Linked DNA regions of Homo sapiens: regions 2, 3 and 4 are each linked to region 1. The links come from fine-mapping of genetic effects on gene expression. A gene starts in region 1. Each other region holds a variant in brackets. All regions are shown on one strand. Distances are from middle to middle.

Region 1 (8,107 bases):
TGCGCCTGCCTTGGCCTTCCAAAGTGCTGGAATTACAGGCGTGAGCCACCGTGCCTGACCTGAAAGTAGGCAAGAGTTTTCAGAAGAATGAAGTCACCATCTCCCGAGGTGGAAGGTGGGGGTAGCAGGGAGAACAACCTTGGGCAGCTCTCATGGGAAAGAGTTCCCACAAGAAATAAAGATTCTACCCAGTCACATAATAACTCACACAACTATGAAGAGCTGGTATGAAATGATTCAGCTTTTATTAATTAGCATCTTACATCTTAAAAGAGAAAAAAATAAAGACAAATGAGGTGGCAGAGCCAGGAGAGCTCCCTGAACACACACAAAGGGAACAGAGGCAGACAGGGCTCAGGAAGCCATCTGAGCACAGGGAGGCAGCACCCTTCGGGAGTGGGCCTGAACCCAGGGGTGCTTCAGGATCTGGGCCAGGGGCAGTCTCTCCAAGGGCTGGTATCTGAGAAGCCTGGAAATCAAGTCCCGGGCCCCCAGAGGCATTGATAGTGGAAACCTCACATCTACCTGATGAGGCCAGGAAAGAAGAAAGAGAAGTCTGGTTAATTTCTTTGATCAATGTCCTCCCTCTTCTTTGAGCCTTGTTAAGGCGCTGTTCTGGACCACAGAAGACAACCCTGTGTGTGTGTGTGCCCACAGCCCAGCAGCCATCACTGACCAGCTCCCCCATGAATGCCCAAAGGTGACTGTCCCACCTTGAGGATGCGTCTGTAAGTCTCACTGTGGGAGGCGCTCTCAAAGGGTGGATATCCCACCAGCAGCTCATAGCAGAGCACTCCAATGCACCACAAATCCACCTTTTCATCATATGTTCTCCCCTCAATCATTTCTGGCGGCAAGTAGTCCAGTGTCCCACACATTGTCTTCCTCCTAGAGGAAGGCAGAAAAGGGAATAAGTACTAAGCAGAGGCCCAGGATGAGGGAAATTCTCCTTCCCCAGCTTTCATTGAGATGTGGAGACCCTAGGACACCCTGGAAAGTCCCTCCCAAGCACAGGAGTTTGGAGAGACAAATTTTTAATATGGATCAAGGTTCAGAAAAGTACTGGGGCCTACTATTAATAAATCCATATTTTGGAATTATTCACACAGTGATTTAGCTCATGCTCCAGAATGTTTTCACAAGAATATTCTCAGCATTAAGAAAGATCTAGAACAAACTGATGGTGTATCAATGAGAGCCAAGTAAATAAATTATGGTAAGAAAATTTCTGTATGAAAATCATTCATACAGAAAAATGCACTCCTTTGGAATTGTGGAGCAATGACTTTATTTACATGCAAACTTACTGGTATAGTTATATATTAACAAAGATCAGAAAATAAAAGGTTTGATTGGACCACATTATTTAAATCTACGAATACATATCAAGTATAGGTGTTTGAAAATGGCAGCATTGGCCAGGCATCGTGGCTCATGCCTATGATCCCAGCACTTTGGGAGGCCGAGGCAGGCAGATTACCTGAGGTCAGGAGTTGGAGACCAGCCTGACCAACATGGTGAAACCCGTCTTTACTAAAAATACAAAATCAGCCGGGTGTGATGGCCCATGCCTGTAATCCCAGCTACTTGGGAGGCTGAGGCAGGAGAATCGCTTGAACCTGGGAGGGGGAGGTTGCAGTGAGCCGAGATCACACTATTGCAATCTAGCCTGGGCAACAAGAGCAAAACTCTGTCTCAAAAAAAAAAAAAAAAAAAAAGAAAAGAAAAAGGCAGTAGTTCAGCCAGGCATGGTGGCTGACGCCTGTAATCCCAGCACTTTGGGAAGCCAAGGTGGGCGGATCACCTGAGGTCAGGAGTTCGAGACTAGCCTGGCCAACATAGCAAAACCCTGTCTCTACTAAAAATACAAAAATTAGCCGAGTGTGGTGGCACATGCCTGTTATCCCAGCTACTTGGGAGACTGAGGCAGTAGAACCGCTTTAACCTGGGAGGCCGAGATTGTGCCCCTGCACTCCAGCCTGGGTGAAAGAGTTAGACTCTGTCTCAAAAAAAAAAAGAAAAGAAAAGAAAAGAAAAAGGCAGTATTCCAATAGAAACCCCAAGTTCGTATCTAGGTTTTACACATGGACACATGAAATACATTAAACTGGGTCATTCCTAACTGGTACTCAGAACTCACCCTACCACCACCACCTGACCTACCTCAGGGAGGGGGTGTGCACAGACCAGCCAAAATCTGCAATCTTCACCTCACCCCTGAACCCCAGCAGCAGGTTCTCTGGCTTAATATCTCTGTGAATCACTTTCTTGTCATGGCAGTAGGTCAGGGCATCTGCCAACTCCTCTATTATCTGTGGGTGCAAAGAAAAGTCACCCTGGAAGTGAAGCCTGCCACAATTTCCGTCTGAGGTGGAACACTTACCATGAATTGTATGATTACAGTGGAATCTTTTTGGTCCAGTAACTCCATTTCCTCCTTTTAAATTGCACCAGTTACTGGTGTGTGGGGTGTGGTTTTCCTCTCCTTTTTATGTGGTCTTATAGGATGGATGGTAACATGGACACAGATCCTCCCTGTTGTCCTAGCACAGCAAGTAGCCAGACATAGAACCTACATTGAGCCACTCAGATGATCTCTCACAGGACTTGAGGCCCGAGGAAGTGAAACAGAAACAGGAGGAAAGATGGAAGACCACTCATCCTGACACAGCAAGCTGATTGGACCATTGCTCCTGGGAAAATCATTGCCATGGTTCCCTTTCCGGAACCCTCTAGAAATCTCTTTGTACCTATCTCTAAGCCAGTTCTAGCTATTTATTCAGTGAACTCCTTCAGAGCCTTTCAATATGTTTCTTTACATAAGGCAGTGGAGTTAGATTCTGTTGCTTATAACCAAAGAATCCAAACCTATACGCAGTACTTATTAATATTCTGGAGATACAATGAGGTTAATTAGGGTATCCAAGGATAAAGCTGTAGAACATACGTGCCATTATATTAAATTTACACAATAACATTCAGAAGTAAACTTCTCAGAAGGCAATGCGGACCCTCCTGACAGCCACAAACAGAGCTCCCACCAGCCCACAGTAAACTCAGAGACCCCAGAGCCTCCAGACCCGCACCTCACCGTGGCTGTGCGCTGTTCATCTAATTTCTCGCTTTTCTGCAGCTCCTTGTAGAGCTCACCCCTTGGAGCATATTCCAGAATCAGGTACACCCGGCGTGCATCATGGAAATAGTTATACAGGCGCAGGATATTGGGGTGTCTGAAGGATTAATGTTGGAAGAGTCAGATTTCTCCCTGAGGCCTATCATATGATGCCACCGTCACTGCCTGGTCACACAAGTGGCAAATTATGCTGGGACCAGAATAACAACAGCCCTATCTGGGAGCAAGTGAGGGGAGAACGGAGAACAGGAACCAGGATTCGAGTGTCTGACCCAGGGTAGGAGGTAGTGTAAATGGAATGAACTGCAGAGAAGTCTTCAAGGTACAAGTGCAGGGTTTACTTGGGGTTAGTATTTGGGGAAAATGCTGGGCTCAGACGTCAAAGATGAAAGAGGAAGCAGAGACTGTCCTTACTGTAGATGAGCCTGGATCTCAATTTCCCGGCGCAGCTGGTGCTCCAGTCCTTCCTTCTCTATCTGCGACTTGAAGAGAACCTTCAGGGCCACAATGAAATGGCTTTCCTTGAGCCGAGCCAGGTACACATTCCCAAATTTCCCCTTGCCCAGGGGACGCCCGATTTCAAAGTCATCGACTGTGAGGCGCCGCCTGACAGGAGAGGAAGAAAAAAGCCTCAGCTTGGGAGGTAGGGTAGGCGGAGGGAAAGTCAGGGATGCCAATGCTCCCCTTCCTCTTTCATTGTATCCTTCCTCTGCCGCTTTCCCTTCTCACACAGACCCAGCCCTATCAGTAGTTCTCGTTCCCAGGAGCCAGCACCCCACACACCCAGTCTGTTCTTCATCCCCACGTCCCACCTTCCTTCCTTTTCCAGATACCAATCCCAAGGGACTCACATGGCTGGGCTGCTGGGCTGCTGGGCTGTTTGGTTTGCTGTAGCCACTGAAAGAGAGGAGGAGGAGGGAGATAGGAAGGGAGAGGGGAGGGAAGGAGAAGGGGAGAGAAAGAGAGGAGAGGAGAACAGTAGAGAAGGGAATAGGGAGCGAGAGGTGAGGGGAAGAAGGGGAGGAGAGAAAGAGAGGGAAGGGGAAGGCAGGGAGAGGGGGAGGGAGAGGTAAGGGGAAGAAGAAAGAGTAAGGTAAGGTAGGGAGGGGAGGAGGAGGTGAAGAAGAGGCAGAGAGAAAGGAAGGGGAGGAGAGAGTAGGGGAGGGAGAGGTGAAAGAAAGAATTGGAGGGAAGGGAGGGAGTGGGGAGAAAAGAAGAGCGTTGGGGAGGAGGAGAGGGAGGGGAGATGTCAACACATGTGTCTTCTGTGCACCCGACCCCTGGCCCAGTCCCCAGCCTTCCCTGCGTCCTTTCTCTGGCGCTGGCTCTCACACTCTTCGCCTGCAGGTTGAGCTTTGCCCAGCTGCACCACAGCTCTGGGGGAGCTCATGGGGAGAAGAGGTGAGGGCGCGGACGCCTTCCTGAACCCTCTGGATGGCTGTTCCCGTTCACAGGGTCCTGAAAGGGGTGGGGGGTCACTTTCTGGCCGGGGCGCTTCCAATCCTGCTCGTCCTGCAGCCTCACTGATGTCTCACTGCTACACAGGCTTCGGGATCCGCGGCGTCGTGAGCAGCCGTGGCTGCGCGGCCTTCTTTTATACCCGGCACCAACCGCTCAGAGAGGTACTTCCTGGCTGGCTCCTATTGGCTGAAATTCCTGACGCCATCGGAAGTGCGCCCAATAGAAAGGACAGAAACGGGAGCCTCAGTCCAGGGTTCCCGGGTTGGGGCGGAACTGGAGTGCTGCGGTCCGGGCTGGGCACTGAAAGCGAGGGCCAGGGGTGAGGCCCGAGAAGGAAGGAGACAGAGGGTGCGGAGAGGTGGTGATGGCCGTTGTGGGAATGAACAACGCATACACCCACGGGGTGTGCATGCGTCAACTAGGAGAGAGCCGCGATGCACGTGGGAATGAACAGACGCCCACTCCTGACGTGCTGGAGCCTCGTGCAGCCCGTGACCCTAAACCACTTCGCGCCTTGTGCAGCCGGCGACCCCAAAACCACCTTGCTTCAAGGTCACGTCCGATTCAGGCCACTCTCCAGGGTCACCGCGATGGGGCTCCCTGAAGCCTGCGGCTGTGCCTGCTCACAGCCAGGACGCCACCAGTCCAGCTCACTTACCCCTCTCCTCCCACTCGCCAAATATTTGTTGGACCCTGTAATCAGTTTGTGGATTTGGCCTCAGATCGTAAAATCAGCCCCCACGTATTTGTTTAGCAAACACATAAGTTTCAAAAACATTAAAAATTGAATTCTTTTAGACAGGGAACATATCTTGCAGAAATATAATTGAAGGCCTGGCGTGATGGCTCATGCCTGTAATCCCAGCACTTTGGGAGGCCGAGGCGGGCGGATCACCTGAGGTAGGCAGTTCGAGACCAGCCTGGCCAACAGGGCGAAACCCCGTTTCTACTACAAAAATTAGCCGGGTGTGGTGGCGCATGCCTGTAATCCCACCTACTCAAAAGGCTGAGGCAAGAGAATCGCTTGAACCCTGGAGGCGGAGGTTGCAGTGAGCCAAGATCATGCCACTGCACTCCAGCCTGGGCGACAGAAGGAGAACGAGACTCTGTCTCAAAAAAAACAAAAACAAAAACAAAAAAACCCAAAAACAAAAAAGCTCGTCTCAAAATATTTGGGGAGACCTATTTGAGTAATAAAACTCTGGTCTCTCATTTAGCTCGATTGATGTGAATTAAACCCTTTATTGCAATTATCCTGTCTTGATAAGTCGACTCTATCTGGGGAGCAGGGAAAATAATGAACCCATTAGGTGGTTACAATAGGTGGATCAGGGTAATGGCGCTTAGCTCAGGCCAACCATTCCTTTCTCAGAGGCTTTCCCAAACCTGTCTGTTTGTTTGTTTATTGAGACGGAGTCTTGCTCTGTCACCCAGGCTGGAGTGCAGTGGCTCGAACTCAGCTCATGCAACCTCCGCCTCCTAGGTTCAAACATTTCTCCTGCCTCAGCCTCCTGAGTAGCTGGGATTACAGGCACCTGCCACCATGCCCGGCTAATTTTTGTATTTTTAGTAGAGACAGGGTTTCACCATGTTGGCCAGGCTGGTCTCGAACTCCTGACCTCAGGTGATCCACTCGCCTCGGCTTCCCAAAATACTGGGATCACAGGTGTGAGCCACTGCGCCCAGCTCCAAACTGTCAATTTAAAACAGCCCCCACTACAACGTCATCCTGTTCTGTTTTTCCTTAGGTCACTCATAACCATGTGAAAGTGCTGTTTTATATATGTGTATATTGTTAATTTAATGAGTATCGATTGAGTGCCTATCTTGCAACAGGCACTGCTCTAAAAAATCAGATATGTACATAGCAAAATAATTATGCATTCCTGTACTTGAGGAATTTTTTTTTTTTTTTGAGATGCAGTTTCACTCTGTCGCCCAGGCTGGAGTGCAGTGGTGCGATCTCGGCTCACTGCAACCTCTGCCTCCCAGGTTCAACCAATTCTCCTGCCTCAGACTCCCAAGTAGCTGGGACTACAGGTGCACACCACCACGCCCGGCTAATTTTGGTATTTTTAGTAGAGACAGGGTTTCACCATTTTGGCCAGGCTGGTGTCGAACTCCTGACCACAGATGATCTACCCACCTCAGTCTCCCAAATTGCTGGGATTACAGGCGTGAGCCACTGTCCCTGGCCCTCGGGGACCTTTTAATTCCAACAATCAGTAACTCAAAAAGAACAACCACAACCACAAAAGTAAACAATATAGAAGGTTAGAGGGAGGTAGAGTAGTTGGGAAATGTCTAAAAGACAGTTATATCTGAGCATGGACTTGGAGGAATGGAGCATCTGAGGTAACAGGGTCTCATAGAGAGAGCACCTAAGACAAGGGAATGAAAGCAGGAGGATCCTGTCGTGTTTGGGGAAGTGCAACAAGGTTAGTATGGCTGCAGCTGAAGATAAACTGAATCACAGAGATAGATGGACGTGAATTCTGTAGTGTCCTGGAGGCCACAGTAAGGAGGTCATATTTTTATTTTTAGTTTTGAGACAAAGTCTCACTCTTCCACCCAGGCTGGAGTGCAGTGACACCATCATGGCCCACTACAGCCTCGAACTCCCAGGCTTAAGCAATTCTTCCACCTAAGCCTGCCAAGTAGCTGGGACCACAGGTGCATGCCACCACATCCAGCCAATTTTTAAAAATTTATTCTTTTTAAAGATGGGGTCTCACTATATTTCCCAGGCTGGTCTTGAACTCCTGGGCTCAAGCAGTCCTGCCTCAGCCTCCCAAAGTGCTGGGATTACAGGCGCGAGCCACTGCGCCTGGCCCAAGGATGTTGTAATAGGCTCCCTGTGTATTCTAGAATATACCTGGGATTGTATTTAGTCAGGCAGGGTGTGACAATCAGATACAGAAGTGATTATTATGGAGGAAGTTTATAGTAAGAGATCCCTAGAAACAGGAGGCAGAGCACACCATGCGGGTGGAAGCACCAGAGCAGGTTAGAAAGCAGCAGCAGAGGAGAAAGCAAGGCCCAGAGCCTGCGCTGTGTTTTCCACCAGAAAGGCAAGGCAAGGCAGGGCAGGGGCAGCATAAACAGAATAGGATTTGCTACTGTGAATAATGTTGGCAGGTTTTAGGACACAGGCACTGTCCGCAGCTATCTGATATCTGACCCTAGAATGAATTAGGGCCAACTTCAGGAAAACAACCTCTTGGGGTATCTTGCCTGGTAAGATTTTTATGTCGAAAACCATAAGTAGGTCCTGCTGCACGTTTGACCAGATAATTTATGCTAACAATATGATTCATGGTGGATGCTGGCTTTTGCATGCATGAGGCCCTGGGCCATGCTATATGTTTGTTTTCTGCAAGGGTTGTAGACTGGATATTTATGGTTATTCATGTGGGTTCTGCATTCCTACCTCAATGACCCTTAACGAAAACTCTAGACGTCAAGGCTTGGGGGAGCTTCCCTGGCTGGCAATACTGTGAATGTGTTGCACAC
Region 2 (8,107 bases), 49 kb after region 1:
GGAAGTGTAGGGGAATTTAACATAAACAGGCTTGTTTACTTATGTTAACTAGGAACCAACATTTGATCATTCACGAGTGAGGCTGCCCCCAAAAGGGGGAACAATAATGTTAATTACCCACAGACTGTGTTGGCTCCAGGCTTTTGGCATTATGTCTGTACTGAATAAAAGCAAGCAGTCCCAGCTTATCAAGACTGCTCACTCTTCAGCAGTCCCCTAGCTGCTCTTACACTACATACCTGTGTCTGAGTACTCCTTTCATCCATCGCTCAGCCAGGGTCTACAGGACAGACCCGGCTCTTGAGGCCGGGAGTTAAGAGACTAGCCTGTGCAGCATAGTGAGACCATTCCTCCACAATAATTTTTTTTTTTGAGACAGAGTCTCGGCACTGTCACCCGGGCTGGTGTGTAGTGTTGCAATCTTGGCTCACTGCAACCTCCATCTCCTGGGTTCAAGCAATTCTCCTGCCTCAGCCTCCTGAGTAGGTAGGATTACAGGTGCCCGCCACTGTGCCTGGCTAATTTTTTATATCTTTTAGTAGAGATGGGGTTTCACTGTGTTGGCCAGGCTGGTCTTGAACTCCTGACCTCATAATCCGCCCACCTTGGCCTCCCAAAGTGCTGGGATTACAGGTGTGAGCCACCCACCTTGCCTACAATAAAAATTTTAAAAAAAGATAGAAGAAGAAATGGGCTATGTGATTGCAGGGACAGGCCAGTCCCAAATCTGTAGGCTAGAGTTCAGGCCAGCAGAATTGAAACGTGGATAGGAGCTGAAGGTGCAGTCTTGAGGCAGAATTTCTTCCCCAGGGAACCCTGTTTTTCTCTTAAGGCCTTTCAACTGATTAGATAAGAACCACCTACATTATCAAAATAACTGATTATAGATGTTAACCGTTTCTATGAAATACCTTCATAACAATACCCTGGTCAGTGTTTAATACAATTTCTGGGTAGTACAGCCTAAACAAGTTTACACATATAGTTGGCAATCATACTCTACCCCTTGTCACCTTAAACCATCTTTAATCTTCAAATAAATACAGTAAAAAAGGCTTATTTTGGCCAGGTGTGGTGGCTCACACCTGTAATCCCAGTACTTTGGGAGGCTGAGGTGGGTGGATCACTCGAGGTGAGAAGTTCGAGACCATCCTGGCAAACATGGGGAAGTCTCTACTAAAAATACAAAATTAGCCAGGCGTGGTGGCACACACCTGTAATCCCAGCTAGTCAGGAGGCTGAGGCAGGAGAATCGCTTGAACCCAGGAGGCAGAGATTGAAGTAAGCTGGGATCGGGCCACTGCACTCCAGCCTGGCGACAGAGCGAGACTCCGTTTCAAAAGAAAAAAAAAAAAGATTAAAAAAAATAGAGATGGGGGTCTTAATATGTTGCCCAAGCTGGTCTTGAATTCCTGGCCTCAAGCAATCTTCTCACGTTGGCTTCCCAAAGTGCTGGGATTACAGGCGTGAGCCACAGCACCCAGCCCTGGATATTATATGCTTGCTTGAAAGCCTGTGGCAGGAAATCCACTTCCTACCCCAATCTCCACATGGCTCAGCCCCTCATCTCCCTATAGACTTTGATCTATGTCACATTCTAAATAAGCTGTTTCCTGATCATTCTAATGAAAATTGCAAACAACTCCCCAAACTCTGACACCCTGATCCACCTTACTCTCCTTTTCCTTCTTTTTGTTATAGCACTGGTTAACTTATCATGTCTATTTCTGTATTATAATTATTGTTTATTTCTGACTTTTCATCCAGAATGTTAGCTCCATGAGGGTAAGCGTCAGTGATGATTTTGTTCACTGCTGGATCCTAAGTTTTTTTTTTGTTTGTTTGTTTTTTTAATTGAGACAGGGTCTTGCTCTGTCACCCAGGCTGGAGTGCAGTGGTGCGACCTCAGTTCACTGCAGACTTGATCTCCCAGGCTCAATCGATCCTACCACCTTAGCCTCCCAAGTAGCTGGGACTACATGCAGCTATGCCACCATGCTCGGCTAATTTTTATTTTTATTTTTGTAGATGGGCTTTTGCCATATTGCCCAGGCTGGTCTCAAATTTCTGGGCTCAAGCAATCTGCCCATCTCGGCCTCTCTAAGTGCTGGGATTGCACGTGTGATCCACCATCCCTGGCCTGTATCTCTAGTCTTTTAAACCATGTCTGGCACACAGCAGACACACAAGAGATATCTCAATAAGATCTAATGGAACCCTGGCTCACAATCCTGAAAAATGATGGACTGAAAAACTCTCTCTGGGAAGCCAAGGCAGAAAGATTGCTTGAGGCCAGGAGTTTGAGATCAGCCTGGGTAACATAGTGAGACACCATCTCTACAAAAAAATTAAAAAGTAGCTGGGTATGGTGGTGCACAACTGTCGTCCCAGTAACTCAGGAGGCTGAGGCTGGAGGATCGCTTGAGCTTAGGAGGTTGAGGCTGCTGTGAGCTGTGATGGTGCCACTGTATTCCAGCCTGGGTGACAGAGGGAGACGTTGTCTCAAAAAAAAAAAAAAAAAAGTTGTTAAGAGCTGAGCATGGTGGCTCACACCTGTAATCCTCAAAACTTGGGAAGCTGAGATGGGAAGATCACTTGAACCCAGGAATTTCAGGCTGCAGTGAGCAATGAACCTGCCACTGCACTCCAGCCCAGGCAACAGAGCAAGCCCCCAACTCTTAAAAAATTTTTAAAATAAAAAAAATTGTATTGAAGTTATCTTTGTTACTTTTATATTTTACATGTGTGTTGCTGCTTTGCATAAGCTTATATTTAGGATGTCAAAAGGCTTAAGACAATCTGATTTATTAAATGTGTAAGTCTTACTGGGTTTACGAGAGTAGCTCAAGGGTGTTTTTATTTTATTAAAGGTCACTCTGCTGCCCAGGATGTAGTTGCAGTGGAGTGACCATAGTTTTCTGCAGCCTTGACTTTTTTTTTTTTTTTTTTTTTTTTTTTTGAGATGGAGTCTCTCTCTGTCGCCCAGGCTGGAGTGCAGTGGCGTGATCTTGGCTCACTGCAACCTCTGCCTCCCGGTTCAAGCAATTCTCCTGCCCCACCCTCCCGAGTAGCTAGGATTACAGGCACCTGCCACCATGCCTGGCTAATTTTTTTGTATTTTTAGTAGACACGGGGTTTCACCATGTTGGCCAGGCTGGTCTCGAACTCCTGATCTCATGACTCACCCACCTTGGCCTCCCAAAGTGCTGGGATTACAGGCGTGAGCCACCATGCCCAGCCAACATTTTAGGCCGAAGCAATCCTCCTACCTCACCCTCCCAAGTAGATGTGACTGTGGGTGTGTACCACCATGCCCAGCTAATTTATTTTTTAATTTTTTGTAAAGACAGGTTCTTGCCATGTTGCCCAGTCTGGTCTTGAACTCCTGGGCTCAGGTGATCCTCCCACCTCAGCCTCCCAAAATGTTGGGATTACAGGCATGAGCCACCCACACTTGGCAGCTTAAGAGTTTAAAAACGACATTATAAGACTTTGCAAGAGGCTAGGCGTGGTGGCTCATGCCTATAATCCCAGCACTTTGGGAGGCCAAGGTCAAGGTGAGAGGATCCCTTGAGCCCAGCAGCTCAAGATCATCCTTGGCAACATAGCGAGACCCCATCTCTACAAAAAAAAAAAAAAAAAAAAAAAAAAGAAGAAAAAAGACTTATAAGTCTGTCATGTTAGACGTTTGAAGAGTTGAGAGAATCTATTGTCCTGTTTGTACGACAACTTTGAAATATTTACCAGGACCCACAAATGATATCAGTATTCAGTAAGTAAATTTCAACTATCAAAGGTATAAACCAATTGAACACTGACCCAAAAACAAAGAAGAGTAAATGATTTTAACAGAAAAATACTAAATCTATAAATGATTTTTATGCTTGTTTGTTATCTTTGAGGATTTAAGGAAAAATGATTTTTCTACATAAATTTAATGCTCTCAATATTAATTATAACTCAACTAAGAAACGATGTTTTTCGGCTGGGCATGGTGGCTCACGCCTGTAATCCCAGCACTTTGGGAGGCTGAGGCAGGTGGATCATGAGGTCAGGAGACTGAGACCATCCTGGTTAACATGGTGAAACCCCGTCTCTACTAAAAATACTAAAAAGTAGCCAGGTGTGGTGGCGGGCGCCTGTAGTCCCAGCTACTTGGGAGGCTGAGGTAGGAGAATGGTGTGAACCCAGCAGGCGGAGCTTGCAGTGAGCCAAGATCGCACCACTGCACTCTAGCCTGGGCGACAGAGCGAGACTCCGTTTCAAAAAAAAAAAAAAAAAAAAAAAGAAACGAT[G/A]TTTTTCCCACATCCCCTCAGATCCCAGAAACTCCATTGACATCTGGCAACATAAGAAACACTCAAAACATATGAGCTCAATTTAAAAAATGAGTCTCAGAACTTTTGATTTCTCAATTTTCTCATCTGAAAAAGTAGAGGTAGAAATCTCCACTTTAGGTTGTTTTTAATTTTTCAAATTTTGTATGGAATATTAAATAAAAAGGGCTTGGCACCTGCCTGGAAAATAATAAATGATATTTATATTCCTTGGTGCCTTAAAAGTCTGGGGGTTGGGGGAGGAACAGAGTCCTAGCATCCCCAAATGTGTGTGTCCACCTCCAAAACTGGTGCAGGTACAACTTAAAGCCTCCAAACTTTACAAGCCCTAACAACCTCAAAGACTCAATTGCACTCCTCCTGGAGCATGATGGAGCCAGGCAAGCAATGGGTCAGTGTCATGGTCCAGGGATCATTTAGCAAAATCCAGAGACATTTTTCACTAACATATATTCGGGATGGGAGGTGCTACTGGTGTTGATGGTGTTGTGATACCTCAGTTCTTGTCTTCTTAGTTTAAAAGAACTTAAATAAGAATCACACAGCAAGAGATGGAGCACAGAGTAATTTATTGTAAAGCAAAAAGAATATCTTGAAAATTAGGTGAAAAATAGACAATACACCCTGAGAGAGAGAATTCAGGCTGGGGTGCTCCTAAGGATTAGACAGCAAAGACTGGTGCTGGGGGATTCCCTTTATGGCAGACTTCCATGATTATTCATGAGGAGGTGGGAAAGAGGTGTTACTAGTAACCATGTTCTGGGTGCTCCTCTGGGTGCACATGTGCAGTAGCTGTACACACTTGTTCATACGTCACATGTCTCATTAACATCTTAAATCGCCACCCATGGGTGTGTTTTTTACTTTTTTTTTTGAGATGGAGTTTTGCTCTTGTCGCCCAGGCTGGAGTGCAGTGGCGTGATCTCAGCTCACTGCAACCTCCACCTCCCGGGTTCAAGCAATTCTCCTGCCTCAGCCTCCTGAATAGCTGGGACTACAGGCATGTGCCACCACGCCGGCTAATTTTGTATTTTTAGTAGAGACGGGGTTTCTCCATGTTGGTCAGGCTGATCTCGAACTCCCGACCTCAGGTGATCCGCCCACCTCGGCCTCCCAAAGTGCTGGGATTACAGACGTAAGCCACCATGCCCGGCCTGTTTTTTACTATTATAATGAGCAAAGGGTGTCTGAGGAAAGGTAAAATCAAAGCGCACATGTTCCTACAGGTGAAATTCCCTGCTGAAGAAAGCTTTGCTTGAATGAGCTGAACTACCACTCGAATGCTGAGGCTTATTGTGTTGATTGTATGGACACCCTGGTTGCTGCGTCCCCAGGATATGGTCACTCCTTGACTACCTATCCTGCCTCACTGGTATGTACTAAAAAGAGGCCAGTGATGCTGTTAAAGTTATTAAACTTCACAGGATGTCCCACTGCAACCAAAAATTATCCATCCCATTCTCAATGCCAAGATTGAGAAACTCTGCATTAAAGGAAAGTAACAAGAAAGGATTGGCCGGGTGCGGTGGCTCACACCTGTAATCCCAGCACTTTGGGAGGCCGAGGTGGGCGGACCACCTGAGGTTGGGAGTTCGAGACCAGCCTGGCTAACATGGTGAAACCCCGTCTCTACTAAAAATACAAAAATGAGCCAGGTGTGGTGGCACCTGCCTGTAGTCCTAGCTACTCGGGAGGCTGAGGTAGAAGAATCACTTGAACCTGGGAGGCAGAGGTTGCAGTGAGCCCAGATCATGCCACTGCACTCCAGCCTGGTGACAGAGCAAGACTCCATCTCAAAACAAAAACAAAAACAAAAAAACAAAAAACAAACAAACAAAAAACCCAAAAGGGTTAGGTAAGGAGAAGCAGATCAGAGTTTAGCGCTCTAGGCTACTCAATGGTATCTTTAAAATCTTCCTTCTTTTTCTTTTCTTTTCTTTATTTTATTGTATTTTATTTATTTATTTATTTATTTAGTCACCCAAACTGGAGTGAAGTGGCACAATCATAGCTCACTGCAGCCTCTGCCTCCCAGGCTCAAGCGATCCTCCCACCTCAGCCTGCAGGGTAGCTGGAACTACAGGCGCCTACCACCACACCTGGCCAATTTTTTTGTTGGGGGGTATTTTTTGTAGAGACAGGGTTCTGCCATGTTGCCTAGGCTGGTTTCAAACTCCTAAACTCAGGCAATCCACCTGTCTTGGTCTCCTAGATTTCTGGGATTATAGGCATGAGCCACCGTGTCTGGCTAAAACCTTATTTATTGACATCTTCCACTCTAATTAAACCTGCACATTAGAAACAAATTTCTTTTTCTTTTTTTTTTTTTTTTGAGATGGAGTCTCACTCTGTCCCCCAGGCTGGAGTGCAGTGGCGCGATCTCGGCTCACTGCAAGCTCCGCCTCCTGGGTTCACGCCATTGTCCTGCCTCAGCCTCCCGAGTAGCTGGGACTACAGGCGCCCGCCACCATGCCCAGCTAATTTTTTTTTTTTTTTTAATATTTTTAGTAGAGACCAGGTTTCACTGTGTTAGCCAGGATGGTCTCGATCTCCTGACCTCGTGATCCACGTGCCTCAGCCTCCCAAAGTGCTGGGATTACAGGCATGAGCCACCGCGCCCAGCCAACACATTTATTTTTCTAAACCCATTACTCTCATCTGTCAGATTACTTTTATCGTGTCAGCCCTCCAAACCCATCCAAACTACAGCCAGGACATATCTAAATGTAATGGTTCTACTTTTCTAGTTTCAGTTCTTTCTTACATAGACAAAGACACATGCACAGAGCAACATTGGTATTAGAGGAGCATGGCATCTATATTAGTCTGTTTTCATGCTGCTATGAAGACCTACTCGAGACTGGGTAATTTATAAAGAAAAGAGGTTTGACTCACAGTTCTGCATGGCAAGGGAAGCCTGGGGAAACTTACAATCATGGCGGAAGGTAAAACAGGCACATCTTACATGGTAGCAGGTAAGAAAAGTGAGAGCCAAGTGAAGGGGGAAGCCCCTTATGAAACCATCAGATCTCATGAGAACTCACCATCGTCAGAACAGTACGGGGGAAACCATCCCCATGATTCAATTATCTCCTCCTGGCCCTGCCCTTGCCACATGGGGATTATTACAATTCAAGGTGAGATTTCGGTGGGGACACAGAGCCAAACCATATCACCATCCTTTTTCCAGCATCTGGTTTAATGTGGTGTTTTGACTGGTAGGCCTTCATTTTACTCAATAAGCATTTGGGGATGCAGAGTTTTCCCTGATCACCAAACTTGGCTTTTGTTTGCCCTTTGACTAAGTCTGATGTACTGTTTCTTACACTGTTACTTTGCTACTAATAATGGATATTATGCTATTGTATAAGTCTCCCTTTACAGCTTCATTAAAAAAATTAAAATTGCAGCCGGGCACGGTGGCTCACGCCTGTAATCCCAGCACTTTGGGAGGCCGAGGCGGGCGGATCACGAGGTCAGGAGATCGAGACCACCCTGGCTAACACAGTGAAACCCCGTCTCTACTAAAAATACAAAAAATTAGCCGTGCATGGTGGCGGGCGCCTGTAGTCCCAGCTACTCGGGAGGCTGAGGCAGGAGAATGGCCTGAACCCGGAAGTCGGAGCTTGCAGTGAACCGAGATCACACCACTGCACTCCAGCCTGGGGGACAGAGCGAGACTCTGTCTCAGAAAAAAAAGAAAAAGAAAAAAGAAAAAAAAAGAAAAAGAAAAAATTAAAATTGCATAGAAGTACGCATATACACACAAACGA
Region 3 (8,107 bases), 59 kb after region 1:
ACCCGGGAGGCAGAGCTTGCAGTGAGGCGAGATTGCACCACTGCACTCCAGCGTGTGTGACAGAGCGAGACTCTCTCTCTCAAAAAAAAAAAAAAAAAAAAAAAAAAAAGCCATGTATTTGGTACGCAAGTTCTAGATTTCTGAGAGATGAAGATACTCTCATGGCTGACTGAAAAAGCTTATCATCATCCAGGTCCTTTGGGGGAAAATCTCTTTCCCATTAATTCATTCATTATATCATAGATGATGAAAGATGATCCCTTTGAAGGGTTTCCAGGCTGATAAAACAGCTGAATAATATGGTGATATGTTGCAAGCGAGGGTTCTAGTCTGATGGCTTTCATTTCACATAGAATCTGTAAGGCTGGCAATCTTGCAAGTACATAAAATCTTCGGAGACATTTCAGAATGGTATTAAAAGTCTGTAGATTTGGTTTCACCTTCTGTGCAACCATTTGTCTTAGCAGCTCCAGTATATTATTCCATTCTTCCTCAAATTTCTCATTTATCACCAATACTGTTGCTTCAATCACTGCATTAAATGTGTATACATCAGCACAGAGTCTGTTGTTTAGTAACTCAGTGTACAGGTTTAATGCCTGCTCATAAGCTTGATGCTTCACCATTCCTCGGATCACTGTGCAATAGGAATGTGCATTTTTCCCTGGCATTAGAGAAAACATTCTCTCAGCGTTGTTTTGTGCTCACCAGGTAACTCCAAATTGATCACCAGCTTTCCTCCTAGACCTCTTATTATTTTCCTCTTCCAATTCTTCTGACTGTTCAATTTGTTGAAACTGATAATCAGTTGAGGGCTCCTGGTCACCATAGTAACACAATAAATCCAAGAGACTATATGTTGTTACAAGAGACACAGTGGTTCCTGCTTGCAAAAGCTCATCAAACATGTCCACAGAGACTTTGACTTTTCTGAGCTTGATTCATTCCTTGAGAGTGGCTTCACTTATGTCTTTGATCTGAGGTTCAAAGTACTCAGGCATTAAACACAGTGTATGAGGTTCAGCTATGTCTTTCTGAAAATATTTGGAGTATGAATTAATAATGAACTTGGCCGTATTCTCCCCGGATTTCTTTGCCAGTAAAAATGAACGAGATTCTGAAGAGGATGTTGGTATGAGGTAAGGATTATCTTGAAACACGCAAGGTACAGCCGTGGGAACCCTGTTTACTGTGGATGCAAGAGCCTGAAGAACGGCTACTTTATCCCAAGTTTTCTTTTTTGGAATTACTACTTCTTCAATCCCTGTTATATCAGTTCCTTCAATATTTGAGAGGGTTGCACTTCCAGAATAAAATCTCAGCTGTGTGCTTGTTCACATAGACCTGCTGGCTGACCCGTCAGTGGCTGGTCAAGCCTGCTGCAGAGCCCCAGCCAGCGAACAGCAGCTACAGCCGCCATCTTTGACTTCTCTGCCAAGTGCTCCCACTCTTACACAATCATTCAACATCCCATTTCTGACACCACATCTAAAGCAAAAAAACTAACTGTTCTTTTCTTTCAACTCACTCAAAACAGAACATTTGTGTGACCAAATGAGTGGAGGTTTTTTCATCCATCCCAGTTTTCCAGGAGACACCAGTAGGTGTCCTATAATTCAAATCTGACACTATCTACTTGAAGGAAGTGTCACATCCCATAGGTTGAGGACTAAGTCCCACAGAATTGCCCTTCACTTCAGATGCCAGTCACAATCACCTGGTTGTGGCCTGTGCTTTTGACCAACTACATTAGAATTGGGGTTCCCACAACCCCCTAGAACTCATTTCTAGAATGGCTCATAGAACTCGGGGAAACACTTTGCTTATGTTTACTGTTTTATAATAAAAGATATCACAAAGGATACAAACAAACAGTCAGAAAAGATACACAGGGCAAGGTATGTGAGAAGAGGTGTGGAGCTTCCATGCCCTCTCCAGGAACACTGAATGTGTTCAGCAATCTGGAAAGCTAAAATCTTGTTGTCCAAGAGTTTTTATAGAGCTTCATGTCAAGCCATCCCACCCTTTCCACTTCACAGAGGTTGGTGGGTAGGACTGAAAGTTCCAACTCTCTAATCTTTCTGGTGACCAGCTTCATCTTGAGGCTGTCTAGGGTCTCCACCCTAAGCCATCTCATTGGTATAAACTGAGATGTGATCAAAAAGTCATTAAAAATAACAAAAGACATTTCAACACACAGGAAATTCCAAGGGTTTCAGGAGCTCTGTGATAGAAATAAGAAAGTCAAGCCTACTTGAGTTTGGAGAGGCTAATGCTGGGTAGTGTGAGCACCAATACAATGAGATAAATGGATTATAATGCCGCAGATAAAAATCATCCACTCCATGTGGCTTCTAAAATAATTAACTAACTTAAAATGGATGGGATGGGATGGGCCGGGCGCGGTGGCTCACGCCTGTAATCTCAGCACTTTGGGAGGCTGAGAGGGGTGGATCACCTGAGGTGGGCCGGGCGCGGTGGCTCACGCCTGTAATCTCAACACTTTGGGAGGCCGAGGGGGGTGGATCACCTGAGGTGGGCCCGGCGTGGTGGCTCACGCCTGTAATCTCAACACTTTGGGAGGCTGAGAGGGGTGGATCACCTGAGGTGGGCCGGGCGCGGTGGCTCACGCCTGTAATCTCAACACTTTGGGAGGCCGAGGGGGGTGGATCACCTGAGGTCAGTAGTTTGAGACCAGCCTGGCCAACATGGTGAAACCCCATCTCTACTAAAAAAAAACAAAAACAAAAACAAAAAAAAAACCCAAAAAAAACAAAATTAGCTGGGTGTGGTAGCACACGCCTGTAGTCTCAGCTACTTGGGAAGCTGAGACAGGAGAATCACTTGAAATCGGGAGGCGGAGGCTGCAGTGAGCCTAGATCGCGCAACTGCACTCCAGCCCGGATGACAAGAGTGAGACTCTTTCTCAAAAACAAAAAAAAAGAAAAGAAAAAAGAATGGGATGGGTAAAGTTCTTTACAGGAGTGTCAACTTATAAGTATAAAATGTAAAGAAGTAATAGAAATAGAATCCCCACAAGCAGTGATCACAGATTCAGGGAAGAATCATCAACAGAGGCTAAAACTAGAGGCTGAAGTGGGGGGACTTAATATTATTCAGACATTGCAAAGAATTGACCCACAGATTACTTATTAATTACAAAGAAGAAAGAGTGGAGAGATCTAGTAGATACCATCTTAACCAAGTAGTCAAAATCCAAATCTCCCAAATGGACAAACTGTATACTTAGGTGCCTCCTTATAGGACATAACATCATTGGCAATTCTGGGGCAAAATAAATGTGTTCATTGAATTATTGTTGGAACTTTGGAAAAGGTATACATTTTTCAAAATAAATAACTTGTCCTTCAAATCTCCAATATACTGAATACCTGATATTGGGCAAATTACACGTCTTCCTGGGCCTCAGTTTCCTCACATTAAAAATATGGAGATAATGTTATTACTTGCCTGCTCAATTGTAAGGTTTACAAAAAGAAAATACGTAGTTAATAACTCAGGGCTTGGTAAATGTTTGCTATTTGGAATAAACTGATGGGAGGCTACATGCAATTTCTACTTACCCCTTTAGCATGAAGATACTAAAAAAAAATTGTTTTAATGTTAATACTGGTCAGCTGTGCCTGAATTCCTTTTTTTTTTTTTTTTTTTTTTGAGGCGTAGTCTTGCTCTGGTGCTGAGGCTGGAGTGGCAGTGGCGCGATCTCGGCTCACTGCAACCTCCACCTCCCGGGTTAAAGCAATTCTCCTGCCTCAGCCTCCTGAGTAGTTGGGATACAGGCGCCCGCCACCACGCCTGGCTAATTTTTGTATTTTTAGTAGAGACGGGGTTTCTCCATGTTGGCCAGGCTGGTCTCGAACTCCTGACCTCATGTGATCCACCCACCTCGGCCTCCGAAAGTGCTGGGATTACAGGCATGAGCCACCGCGCCCGACCTGTGCCTGAATTTCAAAGAGAGGAGGGTAAAATGAGGCATGTCCCATCTCCTTCCTATCGCGGCCGAACTAGTGTTTCCGGTTAAGTTTGCCATGCTCTTAGCTGAGAGGAGGGGTCCATTCAGTTGGCTGGGAGCTTAGAATTTGATTTTTAGTTTACAGCTCTGTGATTCACCCGGGAGAGATGCAGAGTTAGGACAACAGGAGAGAAGCGAACCCGGAGAGCAACGCCTCCCAGCACTGCCTGACATCAACCGCTCTGGCAGGGCGACCACGCGGCCGGGGCCCTCCGGAAAGCAGCCTTAATCCCCGCCCGACCGCAGGTCTCGGGCCACGCAGCGCTAACAGCCGCGGGAGGGGGACCCAAACGTCAGCGGTCCCCAAATACAGGACCCTACCTTGCTCTGGCATCTCACCGGCCCTCCCTGCTGCCACTGAGCGCCGCGGAGAGGACGAGCCCGGCGCGCCCCGCCCCCTCGCGCGCCCCGCCCCCTCGCGCGCCCCGCCCCCTCGCGCGCCCCGCCCCCTCGCGCGCCCCGCCCCCTCGCGCGCCCCGCCCCCTCGCGCGCCCCGCCCCCTCGCGCGCCCCGCCCCCTCGCGCGCCCCGCCCCCTCGCGCGCCCCCGCCCCCTCGCACGCCCCCGCCCCCTCGCACGCCCCGCCCCCTCGCGGCCCCCGCCCCCCTCGCGGCCCGCGGCCCCCGCCCCCCGGACCCCCGCTCGCGCTCCCCGGACCCCAGCTCGCGGCCCCGGACCCCCGCTCGCGCCCCCCGGCCCGGGGACGCATTTCCCTTGCCTGCACCCAAGCCGGTAAAAGGGCAGACGTGGCAGCTCAAGGCGCCTGCGCCCAGCAGGTTGCAGGCCCCACTCTCTCAGGGAGACCAACATACTTG[C/T]GGAGCCGCACAGAGAGGTGAAGCTTAAAAGAGGTACCGGTGATGATATCCGGGCTTTTGAGGGCACGGAATTGAAAACTGGAGTGAAACATACAAATAAAAGGAAATAAAAGCTCATCAAGTTTTCTTTGTGTTGCTGATGGTGTAGCACAGGTCAGATACTCGCCCTGCAGAAAAGTCAGGTCAGGAATTTAGGATGCAGGATGACTTCTGATTCTTCCCCAGAGGCACTACCTGTGTGCACTGTTGGCCTCCCTTCTCCACGACTTCACCTGCATTTTTATGTACAATTTTAAAGGTTCTCGATATGGAATTGGAAATGGAATCCTGTGTCTTTTGGTAAACATTTACTAAAAGGCATCACATCTTGTTCTCCGTTTTCAGGAAGTTCACTCCTCCTTGTCAGTACTTTGACTAGACAATTAAAATAAACATAGATCCAATTTAGAAGAATGCTATAAAGATACAAAAAACATAAAAACAAAATATTATTTTAAAATACTGAATTAAGAAAACACTTGCAGGACATAGGACAAATGCAGCATAATATTTAAGTCTCAAAGAAATGTTCTACCTAAGAAAGAAGCAAAGAATCTGAAAGCTAATAAAAGAAAAATAAAATATGGCAAATACATTTGATTAAAAGTGTTCAAGCACGCTAGCGCTCAAATTAAAAATAAAACAATGAGATATTATTTCCAGCTCTAAGATTTATAATGATTGAAAATTTGATGGCTGGGCATGGTAGCTCATGCATTTACTGTCAGAGCACTTTTGGAGCCCTAGGGGGTAAGATCGCTTGAGCCCAGGAGTCGGAGGCTGCAGTGAGCCATGGTTGCACCACTGCATTCCAGCCTGGGCGACAGAGCAAGACCCTCTCAAAACAAATAAATAAATAAATACAATTTAAAAAAGAAAGAAAAATATTTTAAATAACTAAACTGAAACAGGTCAGGGTCACTGGTCTCATTGTCTAAGGTGTTATCTAAGCTCGTGGTCTCATGACCAAGAAAATTAAGGAGCGTGGACACAAACAGTGAGGTTGGATCAAAAATAGAAGCAGAGAGTAAAATGGTGGTTGCCGGGGGCTTGAGTGAAGGGGAAATGGGGAAATGTTGGTCAAGAAGTACAAATTTTCAGTTTTGCAAGATAAGTTTTGGGGATTTAAGGTACATAGTGACGTTATTTGACATGTACATTGTGACATTATGTGACATAGTTAACAAATTAGAAAAAAAAATTTTAAATTGGATGATCAGAAATGAAAAAAACAATACTACTTGACATTTGCTAAGAGGATAGATTTTTATTTTTTGCGACAAGGATAGACCTTAAGTGTTCTTCTGCATGGGGGAGAAAAGGATATTTTTTTTAAAAAGTGTTCTGACCGCACACACACACACACACAAAGGGTATAATTTGAGGTGGTTAATACATCAATCAGCTTGATTTGATTATGGTAACCATATCATATTATATGTGTATATCAAAATTCAAATCGTATATTTAAAATATGTATCTTTTTTGTCAACTGTACCTCAATAAAGCTAAAAAGTAAATACAAGGCCCAGGGCAGTGGATCACACCTGTAATCCTAGCACTTTGGGAGGCCGAGGCAGGTGGATCACCTGAGGTCAGTAGTTCGAGACCAGCCTGGCCAATATGGTGAAACCCCATCTCTACTAAAAATACAAAAAATTAGCCAGACGTGGTGGCAGATGCCTGTAATCCCAGCTACTCAGGAGCCTGAGGCAGGAGAATCACTTGAATCTGGGAGGCAGAGGCTGCAGTGACCTGAGATCACCCCACTGCACTTCAGCCTGGGCAACAAGAGTGAAACACTGTCTCAAAAAAAAAAAAAAGTAAATACAATATTTAATTGGAGTAAATATAATATAATGTAACATATATGCACACACACAAAGGGTGTGGTTTGAGGTGGTAAATACATCAATCAGCTTGATTTGATTATGGTAATTATATCTTTTGTGTATTTCAAAATTCAAACTATATTTAAAATATATATCATTTATATCATTTTTGTCAACTGTACCTCAATAAAGCTAAAAAGTAAATACAATATTTAATTGGAGTAAATATAATATAATGTAATATATATGTACACACACACAAAGGGAGTGGTTTGAGGTGGTAAATACATCAATCAGCTTGATTTGATTATGGTAATTATATCTTTTGTGTATTTCAAAATTCAAACTGTATATTTAAAATATATATCATTTATATCATTTTTGTCAACTGTACCTCAATAAAGCTAAAAAGTAAATACAATATTTAATTGGAGTAAATATAATATAATGTAATATATATGTACACACACACAAAGGGTGTGGTTTGAGGTGGTAAATACATCAATCAGCTTGATTTGATTATGGTAATTATATCTTTTGTGTATTTCAAAATTCAAACTGTATATTTAAAATATATATCATTTATATCATTTTTGTCAACTGTACCTCAATAAAGCTAAAAAGTAAATACAATATTTAATTGGAGTAAATATAATATAATGTAATATATATGTACACACACACAAAGGGTGTGGTTTGAGGTGGTAAATACATCAATCAGCTTGATTTGATTATGGTAATTATATCTTTTGTGTATTTCAAAATTCAAACTGTATATTTAAAATATATATCATTTATATCATTTTTGTTAACTGTACCTCAATAAAGCTAAAAAGTAAATACAATAATTGGAGTAAATATAATATAATGTAATATATATGTACACACACACAAAGGGTGTGGTTTGAGGTGGTAAATACATCAATCAGCTTGATTTGATTATGGTAATTGAATCTGGGATTCAATTATATGTGTATATCAAAATTCAAATTGTATATTTAAATATATATCATTTTTGTCAACTGTACCTCAATAAAGCTAAAAAGTAAATATAATATTTAACTGGAGTAAATATAATATGTAATATATCTGTTATATGGTATATCAAGATTATATTATTAATATTATATATTAATATAATATATTTAATGATAATATAATTATAATGAATATCCAATATTGTGTCAATTAATTTAAAGCACATTTATAATTGTAATACTAATGTTCAAGTAGATGTACATATAATTTACATCAAAATATAAACATCAATATAAACAAACAGCAGAAAATTCTGCTCTAGATTTCCAGACAAATTTGGTGAAAAAATATTGTGATGAAATGTCATATACAGAAAAGAAAAACAATTTATCATTGTTTTAATTAAATAAA
Region 4 (8,107 bases), 37 kb before region 1:
CCACCCGCCTTGGCCTCCCAAAGTGCTGGGACTACAGGTGTGAGCCACCGTGTTCGGTCAAGCCTGATAAAAAGCTTTGGAGCAATTTATGCCTCTGGGTATTGTTGAAAGTGGTGTCATTCTGTACTCTCTTCTCAAACCACATCAGTGGTCTATAGTGGAAGAATCAAGAATACCAGGCTCTCTGGTTATGAAGGTAATATATGGGTTCCAACCCTAAAATTCATCTGGAATCTGCTGCTTCCTCTTCATCTCAAGTCTCACTTCATAGGGAATCCTTTCATAACTAGTGTTTGCTCCAGTCAGCTTCTCCTTTCATTCCTTCTCCCTTCATTCCTTTCATTCCTTCTCCTTTCATTCCTTGTAGCTTCTCCTTTCATTCCCTGTAGAATCTGTCTTGTTCTCATGGAGTCAGGAGCAGAAATACATCTCAGGGCCAAAACCATGACTTTCAGTCTTGAACTGGAAGTTTCCCCTGAAGCCATAGGCTGGTTGCTGAGAGAAGAGAAAGGGAAATGGCCTTAACAGCCAGGGGTGACCCCGCAGTCCTACAGTAACAGTCCTACAGTGGTGCCAGGAGACCATGGGGATTTCACAGCATTATTATAAAATCCACTCAACATTCACTCTACAAATACTTCTTAGAGAAGCTGAGGGAAGGCACTTTGCAAGATGATGTAAAAGATACAGTGTTGAGCCAGTGCCACCTGGATTGTAGACATGTGGTCCAGGTAATGAGTCTCAGCTTGTATCAACCATTCCCTTCTCATAGAGGCCTCTCCAGATCTCTTACTCTTTTTTTTTTCTTTTGAGATGGGGTCTTCCTCTGTAACCCAGGCTGCAGTACTGTAGCAGGGTCATAGCTCACTGCAGCCTCCACCTCCCAGGCTCATGTGATCCTCTCACCTCAGCCTCCTGAGTAACTGGGATCACAAGCCCACACCAACACACCCAACTAATTTTTTTTTTATTTTTTGTAGAGATGGGGTCTCACTGTGTTGCCCAGCTCCTCTCAAAACTCCTGGGCTCAAGTGCGGATCTCTTAATCTAAAGTAGCTCCTCCGGCCAGGTGTGGGGTCCTGTAATCCCAACACTTGGAGAAGCCGAGGTAGGAGGAACACTTGAGCCCAGGAGTTCAAGACCAGCCTGGGCAACATAGTGAGACCCCGTCTCTGTGAAAAATTTAAAAATTAGCCAGGCGTGGTGGTGGGTACCTATAGTCCTGGCTACTCGGGAGGCTGAGGGAGGAGGATCACTTGAGCCACGGCGGTTTAGGCTGCAGTGAGCCATGATTGTGCCACTGCATTCCAGCCCGGGCAACAGAGTGAGAGAACCTGTTTGTTTAAAAAATAATAACAATAATAAAAATTTTAAAGTAGTCCCTCACCCCAATATTACTCTGCTCTATTTTTCTTTAGGACATTCATAACCATTTGAAAATATATTTTTATATATTTACTAACTTTTAATTAATTAACTCAACAAGTACTTGACTATCTTGTGATAGGCTCTGCTCTAAACAGTGGAGATACAGAGCTGGGCCTGGTGGGTTTGTTCCTGTAGTCCTAGCTACTCAGGACACTGAAACAGGAGGATCGCTTGAGACCAGGAGTTTGAGACCAGCCTGGGCTATCTAGCGAAACCCTGTTTCTAAACAAAAAAACAAAAAGTCACAATGGAGACACATACATACCACACACACACACACACACACACACACACAAAATAATAATAATCCAAAACTCCTAAACAATATAGAAGGTTAGGAGTGTTGCGGAGATAAGACAAACTAGAGCAGATTAAGAATCAGTGAGAGTGGGATAAAGCCAGTTGTGCAATACAGAGTGGTTGGGACAGGTCTAATAGGACAGTTAGGCCGGGCGTGGTGGCTCATGCCTGTAATCCCAGCACTTTGGGAGGCTGAGGCAGGCAGATCATGAGGTCGGGAGATCGAGACCATCCTGGCTAACATGGTGAAACCCCGTCTCTACTAAAAATACAAAAAATTAGCTGGCCGTGGTGGTGGGCCCCTGTAGTCCCAGCTACTAGGGAGGCTGAGGCAGGAGAATCATTTGAACCCGGGAGGCAGAGGTTGCAGTGAGCCGAGATCACGCCACTGCTCTCCAGCCTGGGCGACAGAGCAAGACTTCGTCTCAAAAGAAAAAAAAAAAGTGATGTTTTAGCATGGACTTGGAGGAATTAAAGACTCATCAAGTGGAGATCTCAGGAAACAGTGTTATCACTCAGAGAAAACACACAGGACAATGGAACTGACAGAGCATCCTGGGTGTTTGTGGAACACCAAGAAGCCTAGTGCGGCTGGAACTGAATGTGCATGGAAGTTGGAGAGATAGATGGAAACAAATTGTGTAGTCTTTTATGCCAGCGTAGAGAGGTTGTAATATGTTCCTGTGTGTTCAAAAATGTACCTGGGGTTTTTTGCAGTATGGTCTGATAAGAAACTCGGACATGCAAATGATTGCCAGGAAGGAAGAACTTTCAACTCACGGAGTTTTAGAAACAGTAGGCAAAACACATCCTGCAGGGCTATGTGAGAAGCACCAGGGTGGTATAAGAAGCAGAAGCAGAGGAGAAAGCAGAGGCCAGATCCTTTATTGTTTTCCACAGGAAAAGAAAGGCAGGGCTGGGTAACCAGAAGAGGATTTGCTGGTTTGAATAAAGTTGGTAGACTTTGGGGTCTAGGAGCTGTCCCTGTCTGCCTAGTACCTGGCCCTGGAGTCATTAGAGCAAAAAAAAAAAAAAAAAAAAAAAATTGTCTCCTGTAGTGTAAGAGCCAGACAGAGGAGATGATTCACATTAGGGTACTCTGGATTTGTTAGTATGCAAATAAAAGGCATGGTTCAGAGTGAGTCATTTGCAATCTCTAAGAATCAGTTAACTCTAAATGGCAAGGTCCCAAATTCCATAGCATCAACAATGCAGAAAATAAGAAAATATAGCTAATACACTGTGAAATGGGTAGCCATCATGGGGTTTTGAGCAGAGCTGTGATGTTATCTGATTTATGTTTTTGTTTGTTTTTTGAGACGGAGTCTTGCCCTGTCGCCAGGCTGGAGTGTGATGGCGTGATCTCGGCTCACTGCAACCTTCTCCTCCTGAGTTCAAGCGATTCTCCCACCTCAGCCTCTGGAGTAGCTGGGATTAGAGGCATGTGCCACCATGCCCGGGTAATTTTTTGTATTTTTAGTAGAGACAGGGTTTCACCGTGTTAGCCAGGATGGTCTCGATCTCCTGACCTCGTGATCCACCCGCCTCAGCCTCCCAAAGTGCTGGGATTACAGGCGTGAGCCACTGTGCCTGGACTGATTTATGTTTTAAAAGGATCACTCTGGGTAGTCTATGGAAATTGGAATATGGGAGGGGCAAGAGGGAGAAGTCCTGTTAGGGAGCTCTGGCTCTTTCCAGATGTGCAAGGTGGAGGATAACTTAAGCCAATGTAGTGAGAGGGGAGGTGGTTTACCACAAAGTACAATTAACAGTAGATCAAGGAGAACAATGAGTAATTGAATTGATACAAATATATGGAAAAGTATGAATGGCTTTATGGGATGGATTGTTGTTTCTAAATCTATCCATTCCCCACACGAGCTGCTCCAGTGGCTCAGCATGTTCATGATGATACTGCTGATATATCTTATATAAATGTTATACTAAATGTAGATGCTCAGTAAATATGATTGTTTTGCTGTAAGAGATTCTAGGCTAGGGCCAGGGCTTTGGTTATACACGAAAGTGTGAACTCATCAGGCTTCAGTTGCTCAGATGCTATACATTCTAAAGAAAGAAATGGCCCTTGATCAG[C/T]TCCAGGAAGACAATCTCTGAGTTTCTGGAATATTTTGCCTGGTAAAAGTAATTTTTAAGCCTGAGTCCATAGGCCTTCATGTATCGATTTGATGAGATAATTTATTCTAAGAACATTGTTACTGAAAAGGGGTCCCAATCCAGACCTCAAGAGGGTTCTTGGATCTTCCACAAAAAAGAATTCGGGGTGAGTCCATAATGAAAGCAAGTTTATTAAGAAAGTAAAGGGGCCAGGCGCGGTGGCTCACGCCTGTAATCCTAGCACTTTGGGAGGCCGAGGAGGGTGGATCACCTGAGGTCAGGAGTTTGAGACCAGCCAGGCCATCATGGCAAAACCCCATCTCTACTAAAAACACAAAAATTAGCCGGGCGTGGTGGCACATGCCTGTAATCCCAGCCACTCGAGAGGCTGAGGCAGGAGAATCGCTTGAACCCGGGAAGCAGAGGTTGCAGTGAGCCAAGATCATGCCATTACACTCCAGCCTGGGCAACAGAGCAAGACTCCGTCTCAAAAAAAAAAAAAAAAAAAAGGAATACAAAATGGCTACTCCATAGGCAGAGCAGTAGTTTGGGCTGCTGGACTAAGGCTACTTATAGTTATTTATTGATTATATGCTAAAGGAGGGTTGGATTATTCACGAGTTTCCCAGGAAAGGGGTGAGCAGTTCTCAGAACTGAGGGTTCCTCTCCTTTTTAGACCATATAGGGTAACTTCCTGACATTGCCATGGCATTTGTAAACTGTCATGGTGCTGCTGAGAGTGACTTTTTGCATGCTAATGCATAATTGGGATATAATGGGCAGTGAGGATGACCTTGGTTTTGGCCGTCTTGGTTTTGGTGGGTTTTGGCCGTCTTGGTTTTGGCCGTCTTGGTTTTGGTGGGTTTTGGCCGTCTTGGTTTTGGCCGTCTTGGTTTTGGTGGGTTTTGGCCGTCTTGGTTTTGGCCGTCTTGGTTTTGGTGGGTTTTGGCCGTCTTGGTTTTGGCCAGCTTCTTTACCACAAGCTGTTTTATCAGCAGGGTTTTTGTGAGCAGTGTCTTGCACCAAACTCCTGTCTCCTCCTGTGACTTAGAATGCCTAACTTCCTGGGAATGCAGCACAGGTCTCAGCCTCATTTTGCCCAGCCCCTATTCAAGACGGATTTGCTGTGGTTCAAATGCTTCTGACAATATTCCTCATGGTGAATGCTGGATTTTGCATGCCCGAGGCCCTGGGCCACACTGTATGTTTGCTTTTTGCAAGGGCTGTATGGCTATGACTAGTTATGTGGACCCTGCATTCCTATGTAAATGACCCTCCATAAAAACCCCAGAAATGAATGCTTGAGTGAACTTCCCTGGCTTGTATTATAATACTGTGAACATCTTGTCACACATCTTTGCTGGGGGAATTAAGTGTGTCCCTATGTGACCGTAATGGGAGATAACACCCAGAGTTTTGTGCCTGCTTTCATGTGGACTTCATTCTATGTGATTTTTCCCTTTGGTGATCCTGGTCTATATCCTTTTATTGTAATAAACTATAACCATAACAGCTTTTCTGAGTCTTGTGTGTACTTCTAGCAAATCATGAAGCCTGAGGTAAGTAACCTAAAATATCAAGATGATTAAGGCCATTCATCCACGTATCCATTTAGCAGATATCTGAATATCTACTACTGACTAGGAACTATGTGCATGGAACAATTAGGATAAAATCCATATTAACATCTGTGCTCTTTTGAAGCTGGAAATCTAGTTGGTGAGACAGTCAGGAGTCAGTAATCAAACCTAAATATATATGCATGTGTATGCACACACACACACAGATATTTATGAAAGAATGCTTATGACGTAGCTGGGATGAAGGATAAATATTCACTACTGGACAAAGTGTGTGGTGGAAAAGCCCCATGGCAGGTGGGAAAAGGAAACACAAAGTGAAAACAGAAAGGGCATAAGTTATGCAAGATGAAAGGTAGTAAATGAGGCACCTCCCAGACCAGATAAAGCTCAGATAAAGCCCAAAGGATTGACCGTGTAATGATTTGGGAGTTGTTTTTAGAGATGAGGTCTCACTTTGTTGCCCAGGCTGGTCTCAAATACCTGGGCTCAAGCAATCCTCCTACCTTGGCCTCCCAAAGTGCTGAGATTACAGTTGTGAACTACCACACCTGGCCATATTTGGTTTTTATCCCAAGAGTTGAAGCCATAAAAAGTTTTCAGGAAACGTAGTGGGGGCAGAGGGAGGGCGAAGCAGAGCACTATTAAATCTGAGATGGTTCTCTGGTTTCAGCTTAGAGAATGGATTGAAGAGAAAATGTGGGTAAAAGGACACTAATTGAGATGATAGATGGTGAGTGGATGGACTAGGAAGAGGTGGTAGAGAGAAGTGGACATACTTGAGAGATATTTAAGAATTAAAAATGATGGGGCCGGGGCAGTGGCTCACACCTGTAATCCCAGCACTTTGGGAGGCCAAGGCAGGCAGATCACAAGGTCAGGAGATTGAGACCATTCTGGCCAACGTGGTGAAACCCCGTCTCTACTAAAAATACAAAAATTAGCTGGGTGTGGTGGCATGCACCTATAATCCCAGCTACTCAGGAGGCTGAGGCAGGAGAATTGCTTGAACCCAGGAGGCGGAGGTTGCAGTGAGCCGAGTTCGCACCACTGCTCCAGCCTGGGGACAGAACGAGATTCTGTGTTAAAAAAAAAACAAACAAAAAAACACAACTTTCTGATTGTACATGAAGGAGGAAGAGATTGAGGTAACTATGCTGAGTTGGAAATTTCTAGCCAACGTAACTAAACAGTGCCATGTAGTAAAGAGGGAAGACTGAAGTAGATCAGAGTCAGGGAGAAGCATTTTATTGATCTTATTTACATCAGGTGAAGAATGAGGTATCTTTGAAACATCTATGTGAAGATAGCAAGAAGATAACTGGTAATTCAGGTCCAGAGCTGTAAGGATTGCTCAAGACTGGGGTATTCTATTTTCAATGCCTTTAAAGTAAGGGAGGTAACTGAAGCCAAGGGCACAGATGAGGCTGGGGAGAGGCCATACAAGGCAAAAGAGCCTTGGACAAAACCTTTAGGTATTTCAACATTGAGTGGGCAGCTAGATATGGATGACTGCACAAAGAAGGGAGAGAGGGAGGGAACGAATGAGGAAAAAGATGTTACAGAGCCAAGGAAAGAGAACATATTTCACGAATTGAGTATTAGACACAATAAAATTCTACTGATGGCCCAAGAATGACAAGGACTTGTGATTTATAAGCACCAAGTCACTTCTGACCTTAGTCACAATGTCGGAGAAGGTGGCATTGTAGCAAGGAGTTCCACAAAGAGTAGAGGTTTGGGAAGTGGAGAGAAATCAAGAAAGAGGTAATGGAGAAGTGAAAATATTACACAAAAAAGGAAAACATCCCTAAGAGGCTCCTCTATTAAAGGAGGAGAGGGAGGAAAGGACAAATAATCAAGTTGGAGAAACCCATACACACACAGGAAAGACCAGACTGGTGGTGACTGACACTCAAGCAGAAGTCAGTTATGCAAAGATAACTTAGAAAGTGTAAGTGACAAAAGAACATGCAGATGAAAAACAGGCTTGTAGGTGGCCATGATGACATCGAAGGCAAATGTCAGGAGGAAACTCAAGATTGCAAAGAAAGTGACCACTGCTTATGTGTGATTCCAGGGATCAACAAGAGACAGAGTGAGAAGGGACCACTTCAAACACGTGTCATTTTACCCAAGAGCAGGGACATGGAATGGCACTGGGAAGGGCAAACAGGTATGTTGAGAGGCTATACAACTGCAATGCCGTAGATCATAAGAAAAGAGAGTTAATGCAGATGCCTGAGAATATCAAGCAAACAAATGGGCCGGGCGCGGTGGCTCACGCCTGTAATCCCAGCACTTTGGGAGGCTGAGGTGGGCAGATCACTTGAGGTCAGGAGTTTGAGACCAGCCTCGATATGGAGAAACCCCATCTCTCCTAAAAATACAAAATTAGCCAGGCATGGTGGTGCATGCCTGTGATCTCAGCTACTCGGGAGGCTGAGACAGAATTGCTTGAACCTGGGAGGCAGAGGTTGCGGTGAGCCGAGATTGCGCCATTGCACTCCAGCCTGGGCAACAAGAGCAAAACTCCATCTCAAAAAAAGAAAAAAGAAAAAAAAAAAAAAAAGAACAAATGATGTAGGTAGGACTGGGAAATAATATACAGAAAGACAAACTTCAAACTTCAAACAGCTTGGAGAAATGACAGAATAATGTTTGTATATCTGGGGCCCTCAATT

Evidence for each region. PIP is the estimated chance that this variant, and not a neighbour inherited with it, causes the effect.
Region 2: its variant is the best candidate, but not a certain one, in a credible set for the expression of AURKC in whole blood (TOPMed, PIP 0.86).
Region 3: its variant is the best candidate, but not a certain one, in a credible set for the expression of AURKC in subcutaneous fat (GTEx, PIP 0.84).
Region 4: its variant is the best candidate, but not a certain one, in a credible set for the expression of AURKC in whole blood (INTERVAL, PIP 0.72).

The regions. Positions count from the first base shown.
Region 1 is chr19:57,227,665-57,235,771 of GRCh38, reverse strand. AURKC (aurora kinase C) reads right to left here and starts at 4,749. Exons shown (of 7, transcript NM_001015878.2): 1 at 4,466-4,749; 2 at 3,985-4,030; 3 at 3,548-3,739; 4 at 3,092-3,230; 5 at 2,164-2,312; 6 at 714-888; 7 at 224-525. The coding sequence starts at 4,523. The coding sequence ends at 355.
Region 2 is chr19:57,179,142-57,187,248 of GRCh38, reverse strand. No RefSeq gene overlaps it. Among named protein-coding and RNA genes, the nearest start is that of ZNF264, 8.3 kb to the left of the region's middle. The variant G/A (reference allele first, on the strand shown) is at 4,296.
Region 3 is chr19:57,168,544-57,176,650 of GRCh38, reverse strand. It overlaps LOC124904780 (a long non-coding RNA gene), which reads right to left and starts at 4,407. Exons shown (of 2, transcript XR_007067355.1): 1 at 4,355-4,407. It also overlaps the pseudogene LOC100132009. RefSeq lists an enhancer at 4,380-4,439 and a silencer at 4,771-4,820. The variant C/T (reference allele first, on the strand shown) is at 4,848.
Region 4 is chr19:57,264,444-57,272,550 of GRCh38, reverse strand. It overlaps ZNF460-AS1 (ZNF460 antisense RNA 1), which reads left to right. Exons shown (of 3, transcript NR_136529.1): 3 at 4,839-5,358. Among named protein-coding and RNA genes, the nearest start is that of ZNF460-AS1, 12 kb to the left of the region's middle. RefSeq lists a silencer at 529-588. The variant C/T (reference allele first, on the strand shown) is at 3,823.